7 linked regions of the Homo sapiens genome follow. The protein of the gene in region 1 interacts with the protein of each later gene in a biochemical or structural test. Each region holds a gene or a part of one and is shown on either strand. Other genes may lie near its edges.

What was found.
Region 2: the proteins of DOCK4 (region 1) and LMO7 interact in a test that uses a peptide from one of them, tested with the Homo sapiens proteins (one large-scale study listed by IntAct).
Region 3: the proteins of DOCK4 (region 1) and MPP3 interact in a test that uses a peptide from one of them, tested with the Homo sapiens proteins (one large-scale study listed by IntAct).
Region 4: the proteins of DOCK4 (region 1) and USH1C interact in a test that uses a peptide from one of them, tested with the Homo sapiens proteins (one large-scale study listed by IntAct).
Region 5: the proteins of DOCK4 (region 1) and FRMPD2 interact in a test that uses a peptide from one of them, tested with the Homo sapiens proteins (one large-scale study listed by IntAct).
Region 6: the proteins of DOCK4 (region 1) and PDZD9 interact in a test that uses a peptide from one of them, tested with the Homo sapiens proteins (one large-scale study listed by IntAct).
Region 7: the proteins of DOCK4 (region 1) and PDZD8 interact in a test that uses a peptide from one of them, tested with the Homo sapiens proteins (one large-scale study listed by IntAct).

What each region holds. Positions count from the first base shown.
Region 1 is NC_000007.14:111,867,080-111,871,247, forward strand, and holds part of DOCK4 (dedicator of cytokinesis protein 4), read right to left. Parts: intron 2,577-4,168; coding exon 2,495-2,576; intron 1,076-2,494; coding exon 905-1,075; intron 1-904. UniProt on the Homo sapiens protein: Functions as a guanine nucleotide exchange factor (GEF) that promotes the exchange of GDP to GTP, converting inactive GDP-bound small GTPases into their active GTP-bound form. Involved in regulation of adherens junction between cells.
Region 2 is NC_000013.11:75,810,830-75,814,329, reverse strand, and holds part of LMO7 (LIM domain only protein 7), read right to left. Parts: intron 1-3,500.
Region 3 is NC_000017.11:43,808,702-43,812,869, forward strand, and holds part of MPP3 (MAGUK p55 subfamily member 3), read right to left. Parts: intron 2,505-4,168; coding exon 2,411-2,504; intron 2,215-2,410; coding exon 2,106-2,214; intron 378-2,105; coding exon 255-377; intron 1-254. UniProt on the Homo sapiens protein: Participates in cell spreading through the phosphoinositide-3-kinase (PI3K) pathway by connecting CADM1 to DLG1 and the regulatory subunit of phosphoinositide-3-kinase (PI3K). Stabilizes HTR2C at the plasma membrane and prevents its desensitization.
Region 4 is NC_000011.10:17,496,049-17,499,724, forward strand, and holds part of USH1C (harmonin), read right to left. Parts: intron 2,224-3,676; coding exon 2,114-2,223; intron 1,567-2,113; coding exon of another isoform or gene 1,471-1,566; intron 766-1,470; coding exon 710-765; intron 1-709. UniProt on the Homo sapiens protein: Anchoring/scaffolding protein that is a part of the functional network formed by USH1C, USH1G, CDH23 and MYO7A that mediates mechanotransduction in cochlear hair cells. Required for normal development and maintenance of cochlear hair cell bundles.
Region 5 is NC_000010.11:48,155,756-48,160,058, reverse strand, and holds the end of FRMPD2 (FERM and PDZ domain-containing protein 2), read left to right. Parts: intron 1-2,688; coding exon 2,689-2,737; 3' UTR 2,738-3,497; downstream 3,498-4,303.
Region 6 is NC_000016.10:21,997,922-22,002,771, reverse strand, and holds the start of PDZD9 (PDZ domain-containing protein 9), read left to right. Parts: upstream 1-1,655; 5' UTR 1,656-1,724; coding exon 1,725-1,755; intron 1,756-4,850.
Region 7 is NC_000010.11:117,365,073-117,369,240, forward strand, and holds part of PDZD8 (PDZ domain-containing protein 8), read right to left. Parts: intron 1-4,168. UniProt on the Homo sapiens protein: Molecular tethering protein that connects endoplasmic reticulum and mitochondria membranes. PDZD8-dependent endoplasmic reticulum-mitochondria membrane tethering is essential for endoplasmic reticulum-mitochondria Ca(2+) transfer.

The sequences.
Region 1 (4,168 bases):
TCTATAAAGAAGAGAGGAACAAGAATAGACCTCTCAACAGTCAGAAAAAATACAGCACATTATCAGAGGGCTGGTGCATTCCCGGTGTTTTGCTTTCTGAACATCACATAGTACCAAATCATAACAATACTGTTAAGGATCTAATTTTGTCTCCTAATCTCCCTTTTTATGTCCCAGTTCTCAATGATTACAAGTTTCTCTAACCTCTAGGGCATGGTAAGAGGCTGCTTCTCCTTCTGACAGGTTTTTAACCAAGTCATTAGAATTAAAAGTATACAAGAAGAATCAAGAAAGTATAGGGAAAATATTCAGAATTACCTCATGGAACATATTCAAGGCCATGCTATTTGGGAAGTAGATGGATCCTGTTCTTAAAAAAAACATGTGGGGCTACTTCCGGTAATGGAGTTTGGCGGCAGCAGCAGCTCTGCACTGGTCTTAAAAGATCAGTCCCAGGATGATTAGGGTCAAGTTCAATAAAACAAAACAACATGCAGCTTAGCTGAGTCCAATATAATGATTCTCAAGTTGACAGATTAAAATGCAGTGAGAAGCTTGGGGAAAAGAACTGCAAGAGATTGGCCCTAGTGAAATTCCTTCCCCAGGGCTGGTGGTGACAGCATGTCCAGTCGTCAGTATGTGTTCTGGTAACCGGAAATGAAGCTGATGCAAACCAATAGCCTCTCCATGCAGAGAGAGAAGGGAAAGGCAACCCACTTCTGCTCAGCTGGTACACAGAAGGTAGGGGAATTTTAAAAGTCTACTCATAAAGTTGGTTAAGCTACAAATATAAACTGGAGCAATTGACTTCTGATGGAGAAAACATTTGATTACGCTGCTGTGTAAAAATAAATAAACTGCACTTATCGTTTTCTTCTATTCAGCATAGATGAAAAGAAATTACCTGTGACTGAGATAATGCTCCAGACCCTTTGCTCTCTTGCGAAAGAAAGAAACGGACTGACATGAGAAGCTCCTGAATGCAGCAGCGGAACTCCTCTTCGTTTTGCCCACCAGTGGCAAGGGAAAACAGCCTTCGAGATTGAACTATATACTTAAAAATGTATTCTTGTGCCTTAAAAATACAATTTTTAAAAGTTAGCTTCAAAGGAGACAAAGAGTATTTATTTAGCAATGACACGGCATAAAAACCATGGTATGGCATTAAACTTTTACATTATTCATGTAGACACCAAGGCCTTGTGAGGCTTTTTTGAACAGTATTTACTTTAAGGGGGAACAGCCACTTTTCTCTGATGCCTAATGAGAGAAAAAAAATTTAAAAACACTTTAAATTTAAAAGAAATTTAAAAGAAATAGAATTTTAATAGAAAATTTAAAAACACTTTAGCCGGGCACGGTGGCTCACGCCTGTAATCCCAGCACTTTGGGAGGCCGAGGCGGGTGGATCACCTGAAGTCAGGAGCTCGAGACCAGCCTGACCAACATGGAGAAACCACATCTCTACCAAAAATACAAAACTGGCCAGGCATGGTGGCCCATGCCTGTAATCCCAGCTACTTGGGAGGCTGAGGCAGGAGAATTGCTTGAACCTGGCAGGCGGAGGTTGCAGTGAGCAGAGAATGCACCATTGCCCTCCAGCCTGGCCAACAAGAGCAAAATTCCGTCTAAAAAAAAAATTAAAAAAAAAAAAATTTTATCATTCTGGAGTATGATGAACACTAAGTGTTTTTGACCCTCAGATGTTTTTTAAATTTAGTCAACAAAAAGATAACTGTTTTTTAAAAAATAATTTTGTTTTGACAGGTAGTACTCTTGCCACTTAGCATTTTACCTTCAATCAGCCCAAATTACAAATGAATAATTCACAAAATGCTATTTTATAAAATGTATACATTGTCTACTTAAAGCTACTGACACCAAATAGGATGGTCCTCAACAACAGGAATCAGAAGACTACCAGGGCTGTTACTGGACAATTCCTTTAAGAATTTGTACTCTTTTTCAACATGTTTGCAAGTAAGGGATTAGTATCTCCACAGACAACTGAGCATATGGTGCCCAGCGATGTGGGCAGCGTTAAGCCACAAGACCCGGTAAAGCCTCAGGTTTCCTCATTATAATCCCCGCTAAGCCACCCTATTTGCTCTTAAAATTTAACATAAATGGTTCTCCGATGGTCTCTGTCAGGTTGGTGGAAGCAAGAGCCAGGAACTTCTAAGCTTAACTGCCCCATATAGACTTCTCTCATAAACCCTCCCTCTCTCCTGCTCATCTTAGACTTCACTTCAAGTACTCTCCAGCCCAGAGGAACAAGGATTCAATCCTGAACAGTTTCCAGTAGACTACCCTGGCAAAGTCCCCTTCAAATTTCATCAGCTCTCAAGCAGTCACAAACTGATTAAGATCCTTGAATTGGAATGTCAGTAATACATCATCACCCATTACTGTCTGTGTAGAGGAACCAATTAGTTTAAGCATCAGCATGCAACAGCTTTGTTAGACTCTGCTGTTATCAACAGCATGTTATCACCTTCAGCACCTCCTGGATATGCTCTTGCCGCTCTGCTTCTGTGATCCGGTCCACGTACCATTTGAGCACTTTGATGAGATCTCTAAAATACAGGGGAAAATGTGCAGAATGTAAAATTGGTCTAATTCTCAATTAAATGCCAACAAATCCAACTCTTAACTATATCATGAGGAGGTTTCTTTTCCCATCAGTTCTCACATTTTCCTGTCAATCTGCTGTATAATAATTTTACTAAATCTGCAGATCAACACTGCCACCCTTTTCAAAGCTTAAGGGAGAAACAACACTCAATCTGGACATATTCCATAGCCCTGCTGTTTCTGGTAATGCCTCCAAATGGGTGAACACAAATATTGGAGAAAAGGACTGTGCCCAACCAAGTGCCTGGCAGTGTGAGTGCCATGGTCAATACTGTAAAACTGCTCATTGGGATTTCTTTCCCAGTGACCACGTAAACAGCTGGATGCAATATCATTAGGCTGCAGGCAAAACGGGGTGGGAAGGAGGGATGGAGACAATGCCTCCCCACTGCTATGCACACCTTATGGATTTATCAAGCCAATTTTCTGACCCATGAGAAGAACCTGGCTTATGTCAATATGTGCCTTAGGAGAATTTCTAGAAAGGCCAAGGTAATTTTTTTTCCTGTTTTGAAAAAATGTAAAAACAACAGCCCACAACTCTCAAGATGACAGTCTTACACCTTGAACTTTGGTCAGTTCTTGGTTTCTCTTTTTTCTTTTTCTTTTCTTTTTTTTTTTTTTTTTTGAGACAGAGTCTTGCTTTGTCACCCAGGCTGGTGTGCAGTGGCTTGGCTCACCGCAACCTCTGCCGCCCTCCTGGGTTCAAGCAGATTCTTCTGCCTCAGCCTCCCAAGCAGCTGGGATTCAAGTATGCACCACCACGCCCAGCTAATTTTTGTATTTTTAGTAGAGGCCCGGTTTCACCATGTTGGTCAGGCTGGTCTTGAACTCCTGACCTCAAATGATCTGTCCACCTTGGCCTCCCAAAGTGCTGGGATTACAGGCATGAGCCACTGTGCCCAGCCAGTTCTTGGTTTCTAGGAAACAGTTTACCCAGCAATGTTTCTCTGGGTCAGGGGAGAATACTTGGATGTGCCAGTAGGTAGATGTTGGTGGAGTGCTATTTTTTAAGATAACATGCTAGTGAGTTTCTGATCACCCCCAGCCTAAGAGGATTCCACAAGCCTTATTTGTCTTTTTAAGATCCTGCTTTCCTGGCCAACCGGAAGTGTGAGAAATTATACTCTTGTTTTCTAGCTTCCAAAGACAATTTAACTTGGAAGCAGTAACCTCCTCACACTAGGGCCCAAATTGTTAGGCTGAGTGGGCCGATGTTTCAAAACTATTCCTGCGGTTGCATTTCACTCTCAGCAAAAAATCACACTGATGAAGTGTCAAGTCTAACAAAAATACCTTCATTCATTTCGATGTTGGAGACGTCGATCTTAACCTGTCATGGCTGGGAATATCCAAGTAAACAGGATCAAATGCTTATCTGATAACCTATTAACCTTTATATATTACATAGATGGGGGAAGGATATCAACCTGATTTCATGCTTTTTAAACTCACCTCAGGGAACAGTCAGGCATGTGCATGCCCACAGGTGCTTAAGGTATAAGGTAGAAATATGGGAGAACAGCAAGGACCA
Region 2 (3,500 bases), on another chromosome or scaffold:
TTAGCAGCACAAGGCAGGCAGGATATACTCATTCAATGTCTACGGTAAGAATGAGGTAGGTTTTCTCACATTTAATCCAGCAAAATTTGCTATACTTAAAATGTTTCTAATTCTTTTTGTAAGATTATTATGGCTATCCACAGTTCTATGAAGAAAGTTTTATAGGATTTATTAAGGACTATTAAGGAATAAATTATATTGAGAGAATATATGAGGACATATATGAATATAGATGGATCTATTAATGTAATATATCTAACTAGGTATGACTACTTATAAAGCTGATTTGTGTGAATTTGAGAATATAGATTCACGTAAGTCATACTATGAAGAATGAGGCTATTTGAACTAATACTATGACAGACTCACTAAGAAGAGGCAGGAAAAATTTTTCAAGAACCAGGTATGAGGGGTATCTAGACACTCAACACATGAGATTACATAAACTCCAGAACAAAAACAAAAAAGGATGCTAATATTTTAATAATCTTTTGATGGGAGGAAGGCTAGAAAGCCCAGCATCTCCCAGGGGTGCTCTCCTTTGGCCCTAATCCTCCTACACCATGCAATGCTAAGGTGTCTTCCCATGAAATGTGCTTCTCAAGACAGAGGCTGCATCCTCCTCCTGGGTGCCCCCAACACGGAGCACAGCCTGGCACACAGGTGGTCCTTAATGTGAACAAAGTGAACCAAATACACTCTGGAGTAGACAAGTCCCTGTGTAAGGCAGGAACATGAGCACAGTTCACTCCCTAGGGTACAAAAAGTTACCCACATCAAGCCTGCACACACTGTACAGCAGCTGGAGCCAGGCACTGCAACAAGCCAGGAAGGGAGGGCTGCAGGCCCAGCCATGGTGCCAGTTTTCACCCCACCCTAACACACATCAGATCACTTCCGAGCCCCCATTTCTCACCTGCTAAGTGAGGAAGGGATTGTTATGAGAACTGGATTTGGCTGTGTGGGTAGCATTTTTAAAACCGTCTGGGCCATATACTAATTCTCATTAAAGCAAACATGATTGTTTGGGATCTCCCAAAAGCTAACTCTCCAAGCTGCTTCAAATCAGAGAGGTCACCCCGGACCACAGTGATAAAATCCAGAACTTTTGTAGTAGAGGAAGGAGTCTCTCAGCCAGATCACAAAGAATTCTTCCCTCCCTTATCAGCATTAATGGCATAATATTCAGCTTCTGAGTGCTTACTGTGTGCCAGCAACCTCGCCAAGCAGTCTACGTGAATTATCTCAGAGGCGAAGCCCTAGTCTGGTTCTACCACTCACAAGCCACATGTCCTTGGGAAAGCGGCAATATTTGTTTCTCTATCTCCACATCCCTATCTGTCGGCCTCACAGATTTGAGATAAGTACCAAAGATAGCATCAGGAAAATTGTTTGGGAAAACTATGAAGGATTGCACAGCTCTAGTATGTTGTGTTGAATGAAGGATGATTAGCTGGCAAATCACATCGTATGTCTCTTACAAGTCCTGCTTCATTTGTATTTCCTTATTTGGAAAGGCTCCAATTTAGAACTGCAACTGGATTTTTTCCAAAAAATACAGATCTAGCATCTTGCCTTTCTGTTGAATAGAATTTTTTAAAAATAACATTTAGAAGGAAAAAGAGGAACTTTAAGGAAGAAGGTGTCAATCATAAAACAAGGTTGCTAAAGTCTTACTCTCTTCTCCCACTATGCAGATTGCCTACTATGCTCCTGTCACTTTTTGGCTAGTTTTAAGGCATTTCCTTTTAGAACTCACTTTCAGGAACTTTATAGGTGACTATCTAAGGAGTAAGGATCGAAAAGAACCAGCATGTGGCAAATTTTCTCAAATATAAAATCATGGATAGCCTTATACGGCAAACAGAAATTCCATGATACTAGGGTTAAGGCTCCCCAACTTTCAGAGGGAGATAGGAACATACTGATTTATGTACCTCTAAGTATATTTCCATCAGGTACTATAGGAATTCTCTGAAGAGCAATCAATGCTAAAACTTGGGCAAGAGGCTTTGGAATTACCATACACTATAATAAAAAGGCAATGTGATGTAGATTTTTCATTTATAGATTTATAGTCTCAATGAGGGTTCCTCAGTAGCACCACTGCTGACATTTTGGGGCCAGAAAACTATTTGTTGTAGGGCACTCCTGTGTACTGTAGGACATTTAGCAGTATCTCTGGCTATGAAGGCACTAGTTGCCAGTAGCACACACACCCCCACCCACCCAATGAGACAATAAAAAATGCCTCCAGACATTGCCAAATGTCTCCTGGGGGTGGAGGGAAATCCCTAGAAATAACCGAAATTGGCTTTTTTTCCCTTTCTTTTTTGCTGTCATAAGCCTTTATAATTCTACAGAATCTTTTGGCCAAACCCATAAGTGAAATGTGGGTGACTTAATTGTCTTTTATTACAACTTCATGTGAAATCAGTGTTCATTTCCTATTAATACTGGCAACAGATTCAACAGCTTAATCACATACAAGATTATTTCTATATATTCTTACAAAAAAATTTGTCATAAATTGCTTCTGCCAAAACACATGACCAAATTTTCAAGTTTCATGAAACCATACAGACATAAATCCATGCAAGACGAAAGCACATAGAAGAAACGACTACCACATACAAAGCGTCTTAAAAATAAACAGACAAACTGACAGGTGTTAAACGCCAAACAAAGAGCAAGCCAGAAATTAACAGTCTCAGACTTCAAAAGATACTGCACATTTCTCTTTAACCCAGTCCTTACAAAAAAGAAAGCATTCATGTTATAGGCAGTTATTTTTCAATGACAGCATGTTGAGCAATAATGCTTTTCCAGGTAAGTATGCCAAGCTTGACAACGTACATTATGTTCAGAGAAATATCACCCAGCATAAATATGAAACAAGTTCTAGATTAAAAGCCTACACTTAATCCAATTTAAATTTCTATTTTCTTTTCACTGCAGCAGATCTACTTAAGAAAAGCACCGGTAGGCAGGGCATGATGGCTCACATCTGTAATCCTAACACTTTGGGAGGCCAAGGCAGGAGGAATGCTTCGGCCCAGGAGCTCAAGACCAGCCTGGGCAACATAGCAAGACTCCATCTCTTAAAAAAAAAAAAAAAAAAGAGAAAGAAAAAAAGAAAGAAAAAGAAAAAGTAGTGGTAACTGACAGACTAGAGAGAAATCCTTTGTTATAAATTTGACTTATTTGACTTCAAGTGGTCCAAAACACACTTGAATTTTCTGAGGACACATTCATATTATAATACTTCCCACTGTTTGACATGTCATATATTATTCAGTCTCAATTTACAGACAATCTTGCTTTATTTGTGTAGTTACCTTGGCATTGAACTGCATGCACAACAGCCTTTAAAACAAATATTGTACTATCCGAAACAACTATCTTGGGATAGAAAACATTTGCTGCTGTTAGCTCTAATCCAGAAAAATCTTTAGCTTTTCAAGCTTTGGTTTTAGGTTTCTGTCTTCTTCTCTAACTCA
Region 3 (4,168 bases), on another chromosome or scaffold:
GGAGTGGAGGGGCGTGAGCCCAGGCAAAGCCACCTGCCTGGTTTGGGAGGCACTTCCAGCTGTTCACCTTGAGCCTTCTGGCCATGTAATCATCTTCTCTTAAGTTTTTCAATAGGCAAAATGGAAAGACAATCACATGTAGAAGGTGTGTCCCGCATCCCTCTTCAGCTGCAAGCACCCTTATGCAGCTAGAAGCGTTCCTGTAACAGCCTCCCTTAGGCCTTCAGAAAAGAAACAATCAACTTTAAACTTACAAATGGGGCTGCTGTGTCCTCACAAGCTGGGGACATAGGTGGCGTTTTTCTTTTTTCCTGAATTGCAGGCTTTACAAATATAATATAGGGTTTAAATTCTGAGGTCCTCAGTTGTTTCAGTGCCTGAGAAAGAAAGTTCAGGAATATTATATACTTTTGAAGTGTTTTGTTGTGAAATAGACTTTTGAAAGCTCAATAATCGTGTGCTTCAATACCATAACCTCAACAGCAAAGGTCCTGGTTACATGGGTCCCATGACAATGGACTTCAACTGGGCAGACCAACTGCTCCTTTTCTCATCCTTCACTTTGACGTTGAACTCAGCGGGGCCCTGAAGTCACACTCACTGCCAACAGAAGGTTCCTAAGCCTCAGCTCAGAGACAGTTGCTGTCTCTCTTAGCTCTGACTCCTCCGGCTATAATTAACCTTCTCAGGCTCCTCTCCACCTTCCATTTCTGATGGGTGAGGAAGCAGGAGTCAGTGTGTATCTATTTAGTCAAATGTCATCAATCGGACTACATTATTACAAACTTTGTGCTATTACATCTCCTCTTGGTATTCAAAGAAGAAAAGGTTTGCAAAGCAAATGAGATTACTGAACAGATCATTTAAAACTGTAGACTGTAGAAACTGCACTCTTGGGCCAGGTGCGGTGGCTCACACCTGTAATCCCAGCACTTTGGGAGGCCGAGCCGGGTGGATCACGAGGTCAGGAGATCAAGACCATCCTGGCTAACATGGTGAAACCCCGTCTCTACTAAAAATACAAAAAATTAGCCAGGCGTGGTGGCGGGCACCTGTAGTCCCAGCTACTCGGGAGGCTGAGGCAAGAGAATGGCGTGAACCCGGGAGGCGGAGCTTGCGGTGAACCAAGATCGCACCACTGCACTCCAGCCTGGGTGACAGAGCAAGAATCTGTCTCAAAAAAAAAGAAAAAGAAATTGTACTCTTGATTAATGCATTTTATCTAGAAGTAAGGGCTCCACTTGGAAACACTAGTATTAAACTGCTATATGCATTATCTGCACCCTTGATCAATAAAGTGATCAATAAAATCACTTTTCAAAGAAAATTTTGAAACTCAGACTTTTAATTTTGATCACTAACTCCCTGTAAGTCCAAATGAGTGTTTTCCTTTATAGGCATAACGTGCTTTTTGGAATATATTTCAAGCAAACTTCTTTAAAATAAAGCCTACAGTTTATAGCATAAAATCAGAGATCTGTTTCTATAGAGGGGAAAAAAAATCCCCAGATTGAGTTCAAAGCTTGGAAGTTTTTCTAAAAGACAAGGTTAAAAAGATGGTTAAGCCCCTGCTGAGTCCACAGCATGCTGGGTGTGCAGGAGTGGAAATGTTTTTGAAGCACTTCCCAGGGCCGTGTCTCCCTCCCTCTTTTTCCCCTTTAAACTGCTCTCCTCACTGCCTCCCTGAGTGGTTCTCTAAGCCACTGACTCCACCTGCCCTGGTTGGGGAGGGGGAGGCCTGGCACCGAGAGCTCAGCCCCAGTTTCACCTGGGTACTGACATCTAATTCTCTGGCACATTGCAATGGCCAGTCAGCGCCACCAACTATTGCATGATCTGTTCCACGCAGGAGTTACTAGCCTGGGTCTGTGGGCCACCAGAGTGTCCACAAGCTCCCTACAATTAATGCAGCATTTGTGGATAGAGGGGCATGTTTTGGGGTACAAGGCTTTCATTTGATTCTCAAAGGAAGACCCAAAGAAATTGAACAGCCAGTGTTCTAGACTAAAAATTCCTTAGACTGAGGTTAAGTGTTGTGTAAAATGTACAATCCCCTAGTTATAAATTCCGTTAACCAGAAATGGCCAGCAGGCCCAGCAACTCACTTCTGGCTCCACATCCACCAAACAAACTTTGTTTTTGGCCATAACAGCCTGAATGGCCTCCAGGCTGGTTCCATACAGATTTTCCTTATATTCACCATGTTCCAGGAACCTAAAACACCACCAAAGGGGAAAAGGCCTTTAGTTCCTCAGCTTTCCTAAATTAGCAAAGCAAAGGGGACCTCCCAACATGACTTCTCTCCCGCTTCCCCCATCCTTTCCGGGAGTCCTCCCAGGAGCTCTAGTGGAATACAGATACAAAAACACACAACTGCCTGGAGGGCCAACTGGCCCATCAAGCAACGTACTTGTTGTGATGTAAGTCGGCCTCAAATGCTTGCTTAGACACAAAGTGATATTCCACTCCTTCCTTCTCATGGCTCTTTCGGGGCCTGGTGGTATCTTTTAAAGAAAGAAGGAAAGCTGGGCAAAGAGATGTCACATCACAGCACGCAGGGACAGCAGCAGGCTTAGGCACTCATTTGGGAGTTCACTGCTGCTGTGTCTAAACCAGGCACTTCCACCTCATTGCATGTCCCTGTATCAGGCACTGTGCCTTTCCAGGCAGGCGTATCACTGATTCACACAACAACTCTTTGATGTAGGCAAAAGGAGGCTTTTCCTTTTGCAGCTGAGAAAACTGAGGCACGGAGAGGTTCAGCACTGTGCACAGTGACCCACAACCAGTAGAGAGCACAGCCAGAATCGGTCTCTCTGCCAAATGCCCAGCTTATACCCTTAACCACTCTGCTAACTGACTCCCTGATGCTGTGTTTTTTTTTTGTTTGTTTTGTTTTGTTTTTTGTTTTGAGACGGAGTTTTGCTCGTTCCCCAGGCTACAGCGCAATGGCATGATTTCGGCTCACTGCAACCTCTGCCTTCTCGGTTCAAGCGATTCTCCTGCCTCAGCCTCCCGAGTAGCTGGAATTACAGGCATGTACCACCACACCCGGCTAATTTTGTATTTTTAGTAGAGATGGGGTTTCTCCATGTTGGTCAGGCTGGTCTCGAACTCCCGACCTCAGGTGATCCACCCGCCTCAGCCTCCCAAAGTGCTGGGATTACAGACATGAGCCACCGCGCCCAGCATATGCTGTGGCTTTTAAAGAATCACTTAAGGGACCCCTAGTCCTAACTTTTAATTCTTCATTGTTTTTTATTTTTTGAGAGCAAAGGAGCCACACATACACTTGACCCTGATGTATGCTTTTAATTCTTTAGTCAATTAGTTCTCATCTCCAGAAAAAGGAGACAGGAAGACAGACCGTCCCTATATAGATCGGATGTGTTTCAGCAAGGCTGGCTCTCAAACAAAAATGTTGAAACACATGGTGTTTTCTCATTGATTTCCATAACAGAATTGGGATGCACACTTCTGAGGAAAATCAGGTCTTCTGCAGAACAAGGGCACACACAAAGCCACACACACAGTATTTTCCAAAAGATAAAATGGGATCTTGAGGCACTGTGTCTTCTGGCCCATGGGAACCACCCAGGGTATGCCCTGTGTTCTTTCTGTGGCATCTTAGTCCAACCTCCGGTAGAGGTGCTAGGGTCACTTTTCCAACCATGTCATCCCCCTGCTTAAAAACTTGTATTTATCTATGGGTTACATTCTAAACACCCTAGCTGAGTATCTGAGACCTGCGTGATCTGCCCAACCTCTCAGCTCCATTTTCCAGCACACCATCCACACTAATCTCCCCGGTCCCCAACACTGCTCCGTCCCTTTGCACATGTTGTTTCCTCTGTAAAGAGAACTATTCCTTTCTCTTCTGCCTGGAAAACTCCTATTTACTCTTCAGAACCCAGCATAAAAGTCACTGCCTCTGGGAAGGCTTCCCTGACTCCCCCAGTTTCTAAAACAAAGGAGGAAAGTCTCCTATCTGTGGAGTGCCTAGAAGCAGGTGGGCCTGACCATCCAGGTACCTCTTCTCCAGGGGGTGGATCCAAGGGGTTCTGAACGATCAGTGTGTGAGCAACCTCTGCATGTCCTGTTTCAGTCCACCTGAAACTTGGAAGGCCGTGGCTCCCTGAAGCCCTCCAGGTCCATCACAGGTGTGCTG
Region 4 (3,676 bases), on another chromosome or scaffold:
AGAGGAACAGGGACTCAGAGACAGGGATGAAGAGAAACAGGAAGAAAGAATAGGAGACAGTGAGAGAGAAAGGGGACCGGGATGAAGGGGAAGGAGGGGGGCAGATAAGATGTTGACAGGAAGGAAGGAAAGGGTGAAAGAAAGACAGAGAGGGAGGAGGAGAGAAGACAGAGAGACCCACAGGACACAAGAGACAGACACACAGGGAATCACAGAGAGAGACAGTCTAGGCCAAAGCTCCCTGGAGATCCCACAGCGTGGGGACAAAAGCCTGTGGTCCCGGCTGCCTAGAGGCACAGTATGAGTGAATGCAGTTAGACATCAGGAAGACCTTCCAGAGAGTGAAGGATGGACACAGACACCTTCTAACCATCTAATAATGGGGCAGGGGATAAAGTTCTGAGTGGGGAATTAACAATCCTGAGTCTTTTTCCCAACGTCTCTGCTTACCCGGTCTAAGACCTCATGCCTCAATTCCCCATAGTAGAGAAGAATTTGGACAAGACTGCCCGGGAGGCAGCTCAGACACTGCTTAAGGACAATGACTTGGCTCTAGTCCAGGAGTTTTCTAGGAGCTCTGGCTATGAGAAGCTGCGTGCTTGGGCCATTCCTTCAGGCTGGGAGAAGGCTGGGGATGGGCTGGAGAAAGGTGGCTGAGATTCTGGAGAAGGAAGAAGAGGTCTCAGGCTAGGTGCTTGCACACACTTACAGCTCATCGTCATACTCCTTTGGGGGGCAGACGGCAACCACAAGGTCGATCCAGTCCTGTGGGGAGAAGCCGTGTGACTCTGGGGCACACTCAGTTGGATGGTGCATCTGCCCCGGCACTCCATCCCCATTTCTGGGCCCCATGGCCTAGGATCAGCCAGGCTGCACCTTCTTCCCACGGGCCCACCTGGGGCCCACTGTGACTTCCATGGTCTGAGGACGTTTCTAGTCTCTGAGGCTTCGGGACCATAGAGGACAGGGCTGCAAGGCCCTTGAATGACACTCAGCTCCCAAATGTCAATCTATGGACCGGGGACAGGCAGCAACCTCAGAATCACTTGGGGGAACTTCTTAAAAGTGTAGGCTCGTAGACTTGGCCCCCAGAAGTCAAGGGTGAGTCCTGGGAAATAGTACTTTTAACAACCTCTCTGGGTAATTCCGACGCACTTTCTGATGCACAATCAAGTGGGGGACTTCTGGCCCAGCTTTTTGATCCTAACACCTGAATCCCTTTTACTGCCATCCTTGACTTGCCCCTCATTCTCCCTCCTTGGCTTAGGTGTATCCCCTGAAAAGTATTGGAAATATCACTGGGCCCCTCTACCATGAGCTGGTTCCTAATATTGAGCTGAAATCTCTCTCTCTTTCCCCAGGACTTCCCTCCATCCAATCCAGGTCTTCCCTCAAGAATCAGAGAGAACACTTCTGCTCCCTCTGCCCTAATGCAGACCTTCAGATAATCAAAGATAGTCATCATGTTACCCGTGAGTCTTCTCTTCTCCACATCCCTTCATGTGGGTCCCAGGCCCATCTGGTCAGCTTCCTCGGCACTGAACTTAATACCTCAGGCTCGGCTGCCTGCATACAGTTGCACAGGTTGTGCATTGCACACCATGAGCAGGCACCATTCACACTACAGTCTGTAAAAGGGCACCCCCTCAGATTATGTAGTGCACAGCCTGGGCAATCTTATGCAGTGGCCGTGATCCAGGTGGGTGTCTAATGAGTGCAGAGCAGATTCCCACCAGCCCCTCCTTCATCCTGGGTTCTCTGCTTTTGTTAATGCTTTCTGGTAGCCCCCAGAATTCTCTTGATTCTTGTTCAGTGTGCACTTAGAAAAGACCTTAAGTCTTTTTCTTGGGTGACCTGCCATGCCCTGGCTTCAAGAGTCTGTTTAAGCCACTGGCTTTTTGGATCCAAGGTCAGGAATTGACATCTATTTTTCTGAATCCCATCTTGTCAGATTTAAACCACAGGCTGGATGGGGTATGGTGTCACCAAAGTGTTGCCTGGACTCCAGATGCCCACCCTGGAATGAGGCATCCTATTGTGAGACCTGGCTGCAGAGGCCAGGGTTTGAGGCAGGCAGGTGAGGGAGGAAAGGAGGGAGGGGCCTTATTCTTACCCCGCCCTGATTCCAGGCCTTCTGCAGGGCAGCCTCAGCCTCAGCCAGGGTGTAGTCTGTCACAATCTTGCCGTTGATTGCCATGATCTCGTCCCCTTTCACAATGCCACCTGCAGGCAGATGAGGCTGATTGGCCAACTGGGCTGTATGTGACACGTGCCTGGCCCAGGGCTTGGCAAAGGGGGGTCATTGCCAGACAGCAGAAGAGACCTGAGCCTGGGTTCTGAAAGCTCATGTGGACTCAGAAAGCATGAGGGGAAACTAGCCACCTGGTTAGTGGCTAGTCAAAGGGCATTTAGTCCCTGTCCCTTCCACACCCCCTCACCCCAGCTCAGGAGAACCTGGATATCATTGATGATGAGCCTCTGTTATTACAGAGGGACACAGACCTGCATTTCCAGCACAGTATGAGGCCTGAGTCAATTCTGCCAGCCGGCCCTCCCTGTTGCCAGTCATGCTGGTCTGTTCAGGTCCCTGAGCTGCCATGCTCTCTCCTGCCTCAGAGGCTTCATGTCGCTGTTCCCTACCTTGCTTTCTCTTCTTCTAGGTCTGAGAGGAAATGTCAGAAGGGGCTTCTCTGACCCCCGCTCAGTCGAATGTAGATCTTGCCTATTCTCTCACAGCATCCCAATCTTTTCTTATTTGGCATTTTCCACAATTCGTAATCATTAATCTGTTTGTTTACTGATGGTCTCTCCCACCACACTGTCAGCTCCACGTGGGCAGGGATTGTCTTTTTGGTTCACCATAATATCCCCAGCACTTAACATAATGCCTGACACAAAATAGGACCTCAGTAGATATTTGTTGAATAAATGAAGCTGTAATAAGGTGCTCCTGAAAGAGTTGCCTGGGATCTAATAATTTTGGGGAAAGCTGAGTTATAAGCTGAACAGAGCTACTCACTGCAGGATTTGTCAGTCTTGAATGTGCTAACATGCACTGCAGCTTTCCAAGAGGTAGACAGATTGTGCGTGGTTTTCCACACCTCTTTGACATCAGAGCCCTTTTTGGAGGAATTTCTCCCAGTCCTGATGTCCACAGAACACTCTCCAGGTTACATTGAAATAGATCACCCAGGAGCCTTGTGGCATGAAGGCCCATAGGAATGTGGTGTATGATACTGACAATGGTGGCCATGGTGGCTTAAAACACACGTGCTCCTAGGGAAGCTTCATCAGTGACTAGTTATGTTCAAAGCAGTGCAGGACCAAACCACAGAAAGCAGTTGCCTCTGTGCAGTGCAACTGGGGATGGGTGACTTTCACCTTTTCATTTTGTACAAATCCATGACAGAGTCTCAGGGGCAATAAGGCAGTGGTTGGGTTGGGGCTTTGTAAGTGGGAAGGACCCAGGAGAGTCACCCATCCATCCTGGTCCCCTCTCTCTGCTAGACACAGCAGGCAGGTATCACAGAAGTGTCACCAGGTGACAGAGAAATGAAGACAGAAGAAGAAGGTGGGGCCTGGGTGGGCACTGATGGGCTGGGGCAGCTGCCCAGCTGGGCAGGTCCCCCTTCTATGGCTGAAATGAAAGCTTAAAGTGTGAAGTCACCAAGGTCAT
Region 5 (4,303 bases), on another chromosome or scaffold:
CTTTGGAAGGAGTGATGTTATTTGCCCCTTGGTGTGGGAGCAAATCACTTTTTGTTTGGTCGAGCCTCAGATGAAGTTAGGAGGCTTGCATTTATGGGCCATGCTGTATGCAAAATGTTTGTCTTTAAATGCTGGCCCAATAGAAACAGAGACAGATTGAGAGGATGAAAGATTTAGTTCTCCCACTCATGTGCACTTCAAGGCTTACACTTATCGGTTGGAAAGTTGGTCTTTGCAGAATGTTTAAGGTTATCTTTCTCTTTCTCTTTTTGCCTAGCACATATCATTAAACTCATGTAAGTAAAATGCACGTAAGTTCAACAAGCATCACTTTGTGAAAGTGATGGTATAAATCTTGATGGTCATTTATTTAAGAAAGCAAAATAAAGCAGGACTCCTGGAAATGAACCTAAAGTTATGATATACCTTCTGGGGAAGGGCACTGCCTGGAATAGCAAAAGATAATTAGGAGGCCAGAGATCTCACTCAACTGCAGGGGCCAGGCCAGGTGTGATGTCAGAGTAGTTAGGGAGGGATGCAGTTGCCAGGTGAGGGAGATGTCATGCCTGCTCTTGGGTTGGAGTGTGGCTGAGGGGAGTGAGGGAGGCAGCAGAGCCTGGGCTGGATCCTGGGTGCTGCCTCTAGCAGGATTCTCTTTACACCTTACAGGCTCCCAGGGCTATCCTTGGGTATCCCCAGATACCCAGGGGTATCTGTCCACACTACTGTGACAAATCCTAAGTATTGTACTTCAGCTCAGATTTATCATCTGAGCTTCAAATCTGGCAGTCCGTTGAACTTGTTTACTTTGATGTCTTAGAGATACTGTAAATCCAACCTGCCAAAACTAAATGCAGTTGTCAGGAGCAGAGACCTGGGGCTCCCAGCTGTGTCATCAGGGCTAATGGAGACCTCAATATGGGGCCTGATGTTGGAGAACTGGAGACATGAAGGGACACAAACCCCAAACTTTGTTGTGAGTTTAACCGTAAGTAAATAGGACAATTATAATACCTTCATATTTCAAGCCTGAAATGCCCAATCTGCTTCTATGAATTTCCTCCTGAAAGGCAGAGATGAATTTGGTGGCCCAAGTCTTTAAAGGACAGCTGTCCAGAAAAGTTGGGCACAGTGTCTTTTCTCAGTAAACATTCTGTAGCAAGCAGAGCCTTCAGAATGGTTTCACTGACTTCAGAGCTGAACTGGGATTCCTCTTAAAAATACCCACTGAAGAGTTTCAGGACTTGGTGGGGACCCTGGTTCTGGGGTCCTGCTGGTTTGTATGGGAGACATGGCTGGCCAGGAAGCCCACGTGAAATCTCCAGATTCTCCTCTAGTTATCATCTGTCTATAAAAGCCTCCTTCTGTTGGACAGCTTGGTGGGCAGAGAGTGAGGGCAGGAAGAAGCTGAGATCATTACACAGAATCAGGGGGTGAGCAGAGAGCCCCGTGTACTCCGACAGCATCAGGGTCTTGCTGAAAGTCCTGCTACATTAGCCATGAGCTGGCCGGCCTTGAACCCTGGGTGAAGAACTCCACCTCTTTACCCATCATGTCCACATGCAAAACATGAGGCTTGCTGTGAAAGAATGTCTCTATCTTAATGAAATTCTCCAAATTTCCAAGTCTTGCCCTTTCCGTGAAATAGGCATACAGGCTTCTGGTGCCTCTTTATTCCCTATTCACCCTTTCCCTATGTCCACAGTTGAGCCCCAGGTCAAATCTCCAAGGGCAGCCTGATGGCACGTGCAAAAGGATAGAAGGAAAGGCAGTCGTTCTCCCAACTTGTGGTGGGATGATGGCCAAGATTTCACCCTTGGGACCACCAAGTCCCCCTGGACAAGTGGGGAGCAAATCGCTTTTTCTTTGGTTGAACCTCAGATGAAGCCTTGCCTCTTGCCTCTCAGGCTGATGGCTTCCCTAGGTCTCTGTCCAGGCAGAGCCAGTAGCTGGAGCTCCGAATCAAAACCAGAGGGCAAGGAGCTTATTAGAAGAGGTGGAGGGAGTCTACGGGTGGGAGGTGAGGTGTGGACACTGAGGCAGCTGCAGTGGCCAATGGACACACACAGCTGCCATCTTCCACTCCTCAACAAGGCTTAGTGAGCTCAGAACGGAGGGAAGGGGGTGCTGCTTGAGGTGGTGGGGACAGTGGTGAGCCTAGGCCTGGGCAATAGGCTAGATTTCCCATTCTTTGATAAAACTTCTTGAATGTTTCTTTCCCATGTTTATAAGAAAACACAGTTTCTACATGATTTAGCCAAGCTTAAAGTCAATTTTCCCTGCAAATGCTCAAGAATTAAAAATGTCTTTTGACAGTGAGTGTTCCTCTTCAGTCTTTGTAGAATAATTTCTTTTTTATACACTTGAGTGTGCATATATTTACATGAAATTCACTATTTCACATACCTTGTAGCTCTCATGAGTGGAAATAATGTCTCTTTCACAGTGAAGCTCAGTTTGGGACAGATGCTTCCGGCTCTACTGGGGAGGAGGACGTGCTCTCTGGGTATCTAAGGGTTTGTAGCTATTGGGGTGCACCAGAGCCAATTTTAAGAGAAAGAGGCAATGCAGGAAAGGAGAAGGAGAGCAGCAGCACATAATAAAGCCAACCCATTGATTTGGGTGGGGGTAAGGAGGCTGAGAAATGAGGATCCATGTATTTGCTAAATCTTTGTGCTTTTCTCTTAGATATTCCTTCTCATCTCCTCTAACCAGACTTTCGACAGATATTTTCTGAGCACCTTCTCTGCATGTCTGCAGTGCTGTGTAAAATGCCCTACCTTTGCATGGACTATTCTTTCTAATCAAGAGGCGTGTGTGGCGAACTTGGGGCAGCCCCTGGAAGTCTTGTTCTTTGACCATTACGTCTGCGGCTGCATCACCAGATAATGAGCTTCACCACTCGTCTGCCTCCTGTGTCCTTCCGCGGGGAGTAAATGTCACTTCAGCTTGCCGCATCTCTAAATAGGCAAATTTTCAGTGCTCAGAAAAGGACCTGATCTTTGCACAAAGTGCTTTGATGGTTGCCTGCTTGAGTCACTCCCAATCCCTTCCTGAAGCCCTTTCTTTATAATTCTTCTGTTGAAATAGCCATCATATTCACAGTACTAATCACAGCATCTCACATTTACTAAAAACTTACCCCATACCAGGAACCCAGAGTTGGGGGGGCTGTGTCAGAATTATGTAATTTACGTGTCCCAATAATCCTAGACGCTTCTTGACCATCTAGTTTTGTCAAATGAGAAAACTGAGGTTCCAAAGAAGTCAATAAACTTGTCCAAAGTCTGACCGACTCTGCTTGCCATGTGACGAGTCTGTCTTAGAACTGGGTCATTGCCCTGCTTGCAATGCTGTGCCCTCTGGCAAGCCCCCCCATCCCCCCGGTCTCCTGAGCTCGGTAAGGTGCTCCAGCTGCTTCTATCATAGCACTTCCTACATGGACTGTAACATTTCTTTACTGCTCCAACTTCTCATTAAATTGGGGGCTCCTCAAAGCCAGGGTTGGTGCCTTATAAGTTTCTTGCTTCCTGGTGCCCAGAGCAGCCTCTGGCATGAGCTGTTTGAACACTGGCTGAGTCTCACGGGCCTGTGTCGTGCAGAGTATTCTAAAAGGCAAGGGGAAGGTGGGGTGAGGAATTTTTTTTATCAAGGCTGGAAGAAACATGGGCTTCTGTATTCTAGTCCTGAATTGGATGGGGAGGATGGGGAAGGTGACATGTACCATCCATGTGGAGCCCCTTCTCCCACCTCGGAGGATGAAGAGTATCTTACCATCAACTCTACATGCCAAGGCCAGCTACCCTGTGAAGAATGTTTGGAGGCAGATTCTGGGACCATTCCCTTGCCACAGTTCTGCTCTTGGGGCACTGTCCCAGAGTCTTTGCCTCCAGAAGAGTCCCCAGAGAGTGGGAGTGAATGGGAAGACCTGGAGGAGCCTGTGGCCCTGGAATACGGTGCCCTCAGGTGGGTATCACTCTGGCTGGGTGGACTGGGGCTGAGCTCTGACCAGAGCAGGGCTCAGTGCTATCAAGCCACTTCAACTGGGGGTGGGGGATGGTCTGTGGGCATTGCCCAGTTTCCCCTGCATCTTCTTTGGGGGTCATGCGTCATTGTAATGGCCATTTTCACAGAACACTTACCATGGCCCTTGCACCATGACAACGACCTACAACATGGGGACTGTCATCACCCCCATTTCACACATGACACATTTGGGGCTTTCCCAAGGTTATCCAATAAGTAAGTGACAGAACTAGAATTCAAACCTGATCGGTTCCCCACTCCACGGCCCACCTGTCGA
Region 6 (4,850 bases), on another chromosome or scaffold:
TCTGGCCAACATGGCAAAACCCTGTCTCTACTAAAAATACAAAAATTAGCTGGGCGTGGTGACACAGGCTTGTGGTCCCAGCTACTCTGGTGGCTGAGGTGGAAGGATCGCTTGGGCCTGGAAGGCGGAGGTTGCAGTGAGCTGAGATTTTGTCACTGCACTCCAGCCTGGGTGACAGAATGAGACCCCATCTCAAAAAAAAAAAAAAAAAAAAGGAACCTAAAGAGGAATCTGCCCTGGCTTATTGTCTGTGTAGAGCCACAGAAACAACAGAATAAGCTTGGACATAACCAGATCTACCATGGAAATCTTTGCACAGTGCCTGACACCTAATAGGTGGTTAATGACTGTTTGTTGAAGGGATGGGGCAAGGTGCTTAGCCTCTCAGTTTCATCAGACCGGGGATAACACCAGGGCCTACCTCATTAGGTTTTCTCTTTCTTCTAGAATTTACTAACTCATTTATTCATTTTTATTTTTTGAGACAGGATCTTGCTCCATCACCCAGGCTGGAAGGTGGTGACTCAATCATAGCTCACTGCAGCCTTGAATCCTGGGCTCAAGTGATCCTCCCATCTCAGCCTCCTGAGTAGCTAGGACTACAGATGTGCACCACCATGCCCAGCTAATTTTTAAATTTTTTTTATAGAGAAAGGGTCTCACTATGTTGCCCAGGCTGATCTCAAACTCCTGGGCTCAAGCAGTCCTCCTGCCTCAGTCTCCTGAGTACCTAGGATTACAGGTGTTAGACACCACACCTGGCCTAGAATTTATTTTTAATAATTTATATTTTCCTAAAATTGTCCACTTCATCTGTTTTTTAAGTACAGGTTTCAAGAGGATAGAGCCTGTGTTTCTGTGTTTGTCTTGCTTACTGTTGTGTCCCCAGTATCAGTAAATGACAGAACAGCTCCCTGTAAATACTTGTTGTATGAGTGAATGTGTGTGGGAGGAAGAATTATCTTGGAAAAAAGAAGGAAGCATTAATAGTGCCTCTCCTAATAGTGACTCATTTTTTTTTAGGCCACCCTGGGGCCTTTTCTTATTCAAAACATTCATGAAAAAAAGTGCAGTTCCAAAGCATTGGAGCTACTGATGTAACAATTTTTTTAAAATACCATTATTAGAAGTGCAGCGGGGGATTCTCTGATCTTCTAGGTATTCTGTGATCTCCTGTGATCTTCTGGCTGTGATCTTCCTCTGCAGACCACCTCACATCTTTGAGACACCCTCCTCTGTGCCTTCTCCCCCTCCCTATTTCTTAGGTTCACCAAGAATGAATGAAGAAGCCAAGCGCGGTGGCTCATGCCTGTAATCCCAGCACTTTGGGAGGCTGAGGCGGGCAGATCGCTTGAGCCCATAGTGCAACAGTTGTGTTGAGCCTGAGCAACATAGTGAGACCCCCACCCCCTGCCCGTCTCTTAAAAAAAGAAAAAGAAAAGAAGGAATGAAGAAACCACCGTGGGTCAGGCACGGTGCTAACCTCTGCAGAAGTTTCCATACAGTACAATGGTGTGCAATGCCCACGCCACGTTTTGCAGGGTCCACGGGAAGCCTTGCGGCGACCTCACTGCCGCCCAATTTCTGGGCAGTGGCGGCGCAGCGCCCCCTGGCGGCCATCCCGAGGGCAGTGCCCGCGGGCAAGGTTCGAAACTGTTGGCATTGGGACTGACTCCAGCCTCTGCTCCGGGAGGCCCTCCCGGGCTGCCTGACCTCCCGGGACCATGCAGAAGGCCTCCCACAAAAACAAAAAAGGTAACTGGGGAGAAGGAAGCGGGTGAAGAAGCCCTGGGGACCAAGCCTTCGTCAATGTTCCTCCTCTGTAAAATGGCAACGGTGCACTCTTGGCCTGGGAGATAACCTCTCTCCATCGTTGTTGTTATCATCATCATCATTATCATCATCATCATCATCATCATCATCATCATCATCATCATCATCATCATTTGAGAAGGAGTCTTGCTTTGTCCCCCAGGCTGGAGTGCAGTGGCGCGATCTCAGCTCACTGCAACCTCTGCCTCCCAGGCTCAAGTGATTCCTCTGCCTTAGCCTCCCGAGTAGCTGGGATTACAGGTGCCTGCCACCATGCCCAGCTAATTTTTTATTTTTAGTAGAGATGGGATTTCACCATGTTGGCCAGGCTGGTCTCAAACTCCTGACCTCAAGTGATCCGCCCGCCTTGGCCATCGTTATTTTTATCAAGGTATAATTTCCATGCAGTAAGATCCCCCCTTTTAAAAGTACAGCTACCGTTTTGACAAGCTATACCCACGTTGAACCACCCCCTCCATCAAGATAGGGAACAGTTCCACCACTCCCTAAAATTACTTTGCAATGCCCAGTTGCAGCCAAACCCCACCCCACTGCAGCTCCTCACACCCCCATCTGTTTTTTACAGCGTTTTTTTTTTTTTGCCTTTTCCATGGAGAACATCATAAAAATGAAATCACATAGTAAGGAGCCTTTAAAAAATTATACCAATGTAAATAGGGACTTTGGCCCTTTCATTTTTATTAAAAGGGCACATAAATCTTAAAATAGCATATGGGTCACTGTATTTTATTTTTAGAGACAGAGTCTTGTTCTGTCGCTCAGGCTGGAGTGCAGTGGTATGCTCCTGGCTCACTGCAGCCTCCAATTCTTGGGCTCAAGCAATCCTCCTGCATCAGCCTCCCATAGCTGGGACTGTAGGCATGCACCACCACATTCAGCTAATTTTTTTTTTTTTTTTGAGACAGAGTCTTGCTCTGTGACCCAGGCTAGAGTGCAGCGGCATGATCTTGGCTTACTGCAACCCCCGCCTTCCAGGCGGGTTCAAGCGATTCTTGCCCCTCAGCCTCCAGAGTAGCTTGGATTACAGGCGTGAACCACCACGCCTGGCTGATTTTTGTGTTTTCAGTAGCAACGGTGTTTCACCATGCTGGCCAGGCTGGTCTCGAACTCCTGACCCCAAGTGATCCGCCCACCCTCGGCCTCCCAAAGTGCTGGGATTACAGGTGTGAGCCACCATGCCCAGCCTAAATAGAAGAGATGAGGTGTCACTATGTTGCCCAGGCTCTAATCACTTTATACTTCTGCTAGCCCCCAGGTGGGCTTACTGAAGGATGCAGACTCCTGCACTGAGCAATTCTTGTTCTTTATGGCTTTTTTCCGCACAGCATCAGGATTTGATAAGACTTGAGGTTGGCAAAGAGGCTGAACTAGGCAGGCAGGTGCCAGACAGCCTTAGGCTTTTTCACTGCAGGGCTGTTGTCATTTGGACTGCTTGTCCTTGGGAAGGTTGACATTGCTGTCTGACTAGCCTTGTAGCAAAACCTGTAAGTCTTTCATATTTTAGTCTGGTGCTTGGGGTCTGGCTCTCCGAGGACCATAGTGCTGCCTCCTCCACCTGGTTGTCCCCAAACACAGCAGCTCACTCTTTTCTGAGCTCACCCTTTTCCAGGGAGGAAGCATTGAAGATCTCACTTTCAACAGCAGTAGGATCATCTTTGTCAGTACCTTCGGGTTCCAGGGTCCCTGCCACTGGGCCCTAGCGAGCACTTTCCTCAGGTTTCATGTCTAATAGTTCATCCTGAGCATGCACTGTGTGAAGAGCCTTTGCCTAAAACACATAAAATACCTTTTCCATCTTCAGTGTTTTCCTTGTCGTGGTTTTCATCCTCTAATGAAATTAATTGACTCAGCTCCTGCACTGTTACATCTGTGCTTTCCTGCTGGGTGAGCTTCTTTTCTTCTTTCTCAACTAGTTTTTTCAGAGGGTTTTGTAAGTGCTTTAAAGTAGTGACTTCATATGGCTGATAACCTGTGAAGCTCTCATGGATGGCTGCCATAGTGTGAGAAGTCTTCTCTCCAAAATGAAGCAGAGTGGTCTGGTATGTTGCTAGCATTTGAGACAGGAGATTGCATGTATTTACTTGCTCCAAGAAAATCTACATCCAACTTCACTTTGTCAAGGTTTTTTTCTCTCTCTTTTTTTTTTTTTTTTTTTTTTTTTGAGATGGAGTCTTGCTCTGTCACCCAGGCTTGTAGCTGGGATTACAGGCATGCACCAACATGCCCAGATAATTTTTTTTTGTTTTTGAGACAGAGTCTCGCCCTGTCACCCAGGCTGGAGTACAATGGCGCCATCTCAGCTCACTGCAACCTCTGCCTCCTGGGTTCAAGCGATTCTCGTGCCTCAGCCTCCCAAGTAGCTGGGATTACAGGCCCGCGCCACCATGCCCAGCTAATTTTTTGTAACTTAGAGACAGGTTTCGCCATGTTGGCCAGGCTGGTCTCGAACTCCTGATCTCGTGATCTACCCGCCTTGGCCTCCTAAAGTGCTGGGATTACAGGCGTGAGCTACCGTGCCTTGCACAAAGTTTTTTTTGTTTTTTTTTCAAGATGTACTTGTGTTTCTTGCCTTCCCGAACTTCTGCATTTGCTTATAGAGGTCTGGATCAAACTCCTGAGACATGTCCTTCTTCTGTAAGGAGCCTTTTGAGTCTGGCTTCTTTTACTTAACCCTGCTGACTTTTAAAAGTGGGCTCCTGGTAGCTTACCTTATAAGCATATTGAATTTACAAACTGAGATAGGAACCACTGGACCTTGCCCAAGATGTGACTTCTCTGTTTGCTCAGGAACCAGAGGCTCAGGCAGGGCGTATCCTGCCCCCAGTTGCTCCCAGAACCCTGAAAGGTCTCTGAAGATGGTATCTTGTTTATATTATGCTATTTTATTTTCCCAAACAGAGAGCATCTGTGGTTTGGGGGAAGGTGAGGTTGGAGATGGGCAAGGACATTTGCTTTAGAGGAAAGGGCCATGAACCCCTCCAGCTCCCCACAGCCAGAGGTAGGGAGCTGGGGGAGCC
Region 7 (4,168 bases), on another chromosome or scaffold:
GAGGAGATTTTTAACTTCTTTATGCTCCTCAATACTATACAAATATATGCCAAAAAAAAAATGGCCAAAAATAACCAACAAAATCTACCATCTACACAGAGATACAGGTAGAAGGATGTTTATGGTGCCATTATTTACATTAGTGAGAAACTGAAAAATTAACAAGGAATTGGTTAACTTATGGTACTAATGGTCAATGTAATTATAAGCATCTGTTAGAACAAATGAAGTAGGTATATATAGAAAACTCAAGATACAGTAAGTTTTTTAAAAAAAGATGCTAACAATGAAGTATTGAGTATGATCCTGCCTTTATAAATTAATAGCAAATTATAATACATTTAGAAAAATATGGAAGAATAGTTCCCGAATTTAACAATAGTTTTAAGAAAAGATATTACAGAAGATTTTCACTTTGATACTACATATTTTCTAACAGCTTGAATTTTTAAAGTGAGTTTGTCGCTCATTTGAAAGGGAAAAGAATATAATGTGTCACCTAGAAAATATCTGATATATATCTAGTAAAATTAGTACTGCTCATCTAAAGGTAAATAATTAACGTGCATATCACATTTTTCCCTAGTACAAATACAGGAAGTGTACAGTTTTATGCCAGTCTTAGCAATTTGGCAAGAGAGATTTTGAAACTACTCTGTAAAACACCTGCTAATGACCAGGTAGTTGGCTTTAAAACTTTCCAATTAAGTGTGATGTGCTCTGATGCCATGCCAAAAAAGTGTCAGTACGTCCTATGACTCTGAGGTAAGAACAAAGTCATTTAATAATACTTGTTTCCTGGTGACACTGTTCTGAGAAAACAGAGAATATCATGGGAAGAAATGTTGAGTCAGTATTTAACTTTTAAACAAGGTATTTAGTAATAAGAACTCTAACTTGAAATTTCATATATTCTTACTGAACTATTGATCTAGAGTCCCTCAGCCTGCTATATGAAATCTTAAGAGGAAAAAAAAAAGAATCAAAAAGACATACACTTCATAGGATAGAGAGAGGGATTACCCCCTCCTCCAGCATTTTTAGAAACGCCTGAGCCATATGAATCCTATATACATTTTAAGAAGGTAAGCAAAATAATGAAGTGGTTAATATTGATTTCAGCATGTTAGTTTTAGTTATGTTTACGGTAACAAAGTTGTATACTTCTGTTTGTGTTTATTTTTCAACCTAAAGTCTAAGGACCCTAAAAAAGCTTCAAGGGAACTATGAACTTAAATGAAATATTTTTATGCAGAAAATTTGTTTTCTGCAGAAATTTTCTGCAGGTTTCCAAAGGACAGGACCCTCAAAGACTTAAAAGTACTTTCAATGTACACATATATAGCTTCTTTTTTGGTAAACATTGTAACTGTTGAGGGGGGTGTATTTTTAGGGTTTTTTTTTAAAGTTTAGAGCAGGGATCAGTGAATCTTTTCTGTAAAAGGCCAGATAGTATTTGTGGGTACATAAGGTCTGTCACTACCACCACCACTACCACCACCACCACTGTCACCACCATTACCACCACCACCACCACCACCAGTACTTCTTTTAACAACGTCAAATATAAAGTTTAAGAATGTAAAAACCATTCTTAATGCAGGGGCCTAACAGCAGCTAGTTTGCAGACCCCTGATTTAGAGTAACAGTTGGTTTATCTCTGAAGAAATAATAGAGCATGAGCTCTGGAAGTCCAGGACCTTTTACATTTAGGACTTTATATCACTAATCCTCCGTAAATCGCATATTTCCACATCTGTAAAACTGAGATACCAACCTCTCCCACATAGGAGTTTTAACTATTGAGATTGCAACTGCATGGAAATGCCCACACAGTGCCTAATGAATACTTAGCAAACAGTGTTTTATTAGCCCCACCCTGCTCATATGATAGATTGTTAGTAATACTTGTAAGTCAACGTTTAGTATTTGATCAGGCATGCTCCTTCAACACAATCTACTTTATAATGATCTGCTTTGGCTATTTCCAGGAAGAAACTGTGGCTTTTTGGGATAGCCAATATACTTGTACATTACTGATTTGAATTTATAGCCTCCCGGCAGGGTGTGAATCACACCTGTAATCCCAGCATTTTGGGAGGCTGAGGCGGGGGGATCACTAGAATCCAGGAGTTGGAGACCAGCCTGGCCAACATGGTGAAACCCTGTCTGTACTAAATATGTGAAAATTAGCCGGGTGTGGTGGCATACGCCTACAATCTTAGCTACTTGGGAGGCTGAGGCAGGAGAACTGCTTGAACCCGGGAGGTGGAGGTTGCAGTGAGCCAATATAGCGCCACCGCACTCCAGCCTGGGCAAGAGTGAGACTCCGTCTCAAAACAAACAAACAAACAAACAAACAAAAATTATAGCCTCCTCAAAATGACTATTCTCCCCTCAATGAATAAATCAAATTTCTAGAGCAAAGATGTAATGTATCAATACATTATTCTCCATCTAAAGTGTTTTAAAAGCTGAAATTAAAATAATTCAAAGCAGCTGGAGGAAATCCAATGTGCAAGAAGTAAAATCAGCACTAAACTGGGTATTTAGGTGGAGTACACTTAGGTGTGCTAAGAAAGCTAATGTGGTGGCTCATGCCTGTAATCCCAGCACTTTGGGAGGCCGAGGCAGACAGAGCACCTGAAGTCAGAAGTTCAAGACCAGCCTGCCCAACATGGCAAAACCCCATCTCTACTAAAAATAAAAAAATTAGCTGGGCATTGTGGCACACGCCTGTGGGAGGCTGAGGCAGGAGAACTGCTTGAACCTGGGAGGCGGAGGTTGCAGTGAGCCGAGATCATGCACCTGCACTCCAGCCTGGGCAACGAGAGAGGAAAAAAAAAAAAGCTAAGGTCACAATGCATTACATACGGTACCACAGTAATCAGGTGTTTGCCTTAGCAGAGCAGAGATATTGATCTCTCCTGTTCCAGTTTCTCACAAAACTGAAGGGCTTAAATATTTCCAATGCCACTAAAATAAGCTTTATGTGTTCTTTGTTTTCCCTAGAAAGACTAACCCTATAATAGCATGAACTAGTTTATAACCATTTTTATCACGTTTACTATACCCACCGCAACACTAGGTAGTATGCACTAAGCACTTACTGAAGATAAATGACTATTTTTTAAATGACATAATTATTCATCTCTAAGACAATGATCTTGCAATTCAACTTATACAGAGATATGACGAGATATAGAGATATGAGCAACAGTACAAGAAAAAGCACAACAGGTTAAAAATTAGCTATTACAAGATTATTCCAGCATAGCTAGAGTAATGCACAATGCCATTGTCTATTCTCCCCAAATATTAAAGGTTAGATTTCCTATCAACATTAGTAAGTAAAACTGTCACTATTATAACCATCAAGGAATTTTAGTAGCTATTTTAAAATATTTTCCAATGTAATAGAAAGGAAAAAAGTATGAAAAAGTAAATAAATACAACATATTACACTTGACTTTACAAATGATTTTGTCAGTTTTCTGTGAATTTACTTTGAAAGATTTTGAGATACGGATCACTCAATTCATTAAATTCAAATATACTGTCAATAAGTTGATGCCCCCCTTTTTGGAGATCAGTGAAGTAAATGCTTACATAGTTATTAATGACCCATTCCACTAAAGCAAACTATCCACCAAACTCGAACAAAAAGGAGACACTATCTACTTACCATCACTACATGGTAGAAAAATGGATTGCATTTCAAGGCATTTTTTTTTTTCTGGCAGAGTGACTTTTTAAAATTCAACATTATATTGACAATGTTTTTTTTTTTTTTTTTTTTTTTTGAGACAGTCTCACTCTGTTGCCCAGACTGGAATACAGTGGCGCAATCTTGGCTCACTGCAACCTCCGCCTCCTGGGTTCAAGCAATTCTCATGCCTCAGCATCCCCAGCAGCTGGGACTGCAGGTGCGTGCCATTTTTAGTAGAAGCGGGGTTTCACCATGTTGGCCAGGCTGGTCTCGAACTCCTGACCTCAAGTGATCCACCCACCTTGGCCTCCCAAAGTGCTGAGATTACAGGCATCAGCCACCACGCCAGGCCTGACAATGTCTTTTATTTATTTATTTATTTATTTTTACTTTTTGAGATAGAGTCTTGCTCTGTTGCCCAGGCTGGAGTGCAGTGGTATGATCTCGGCTTGCAGCAAT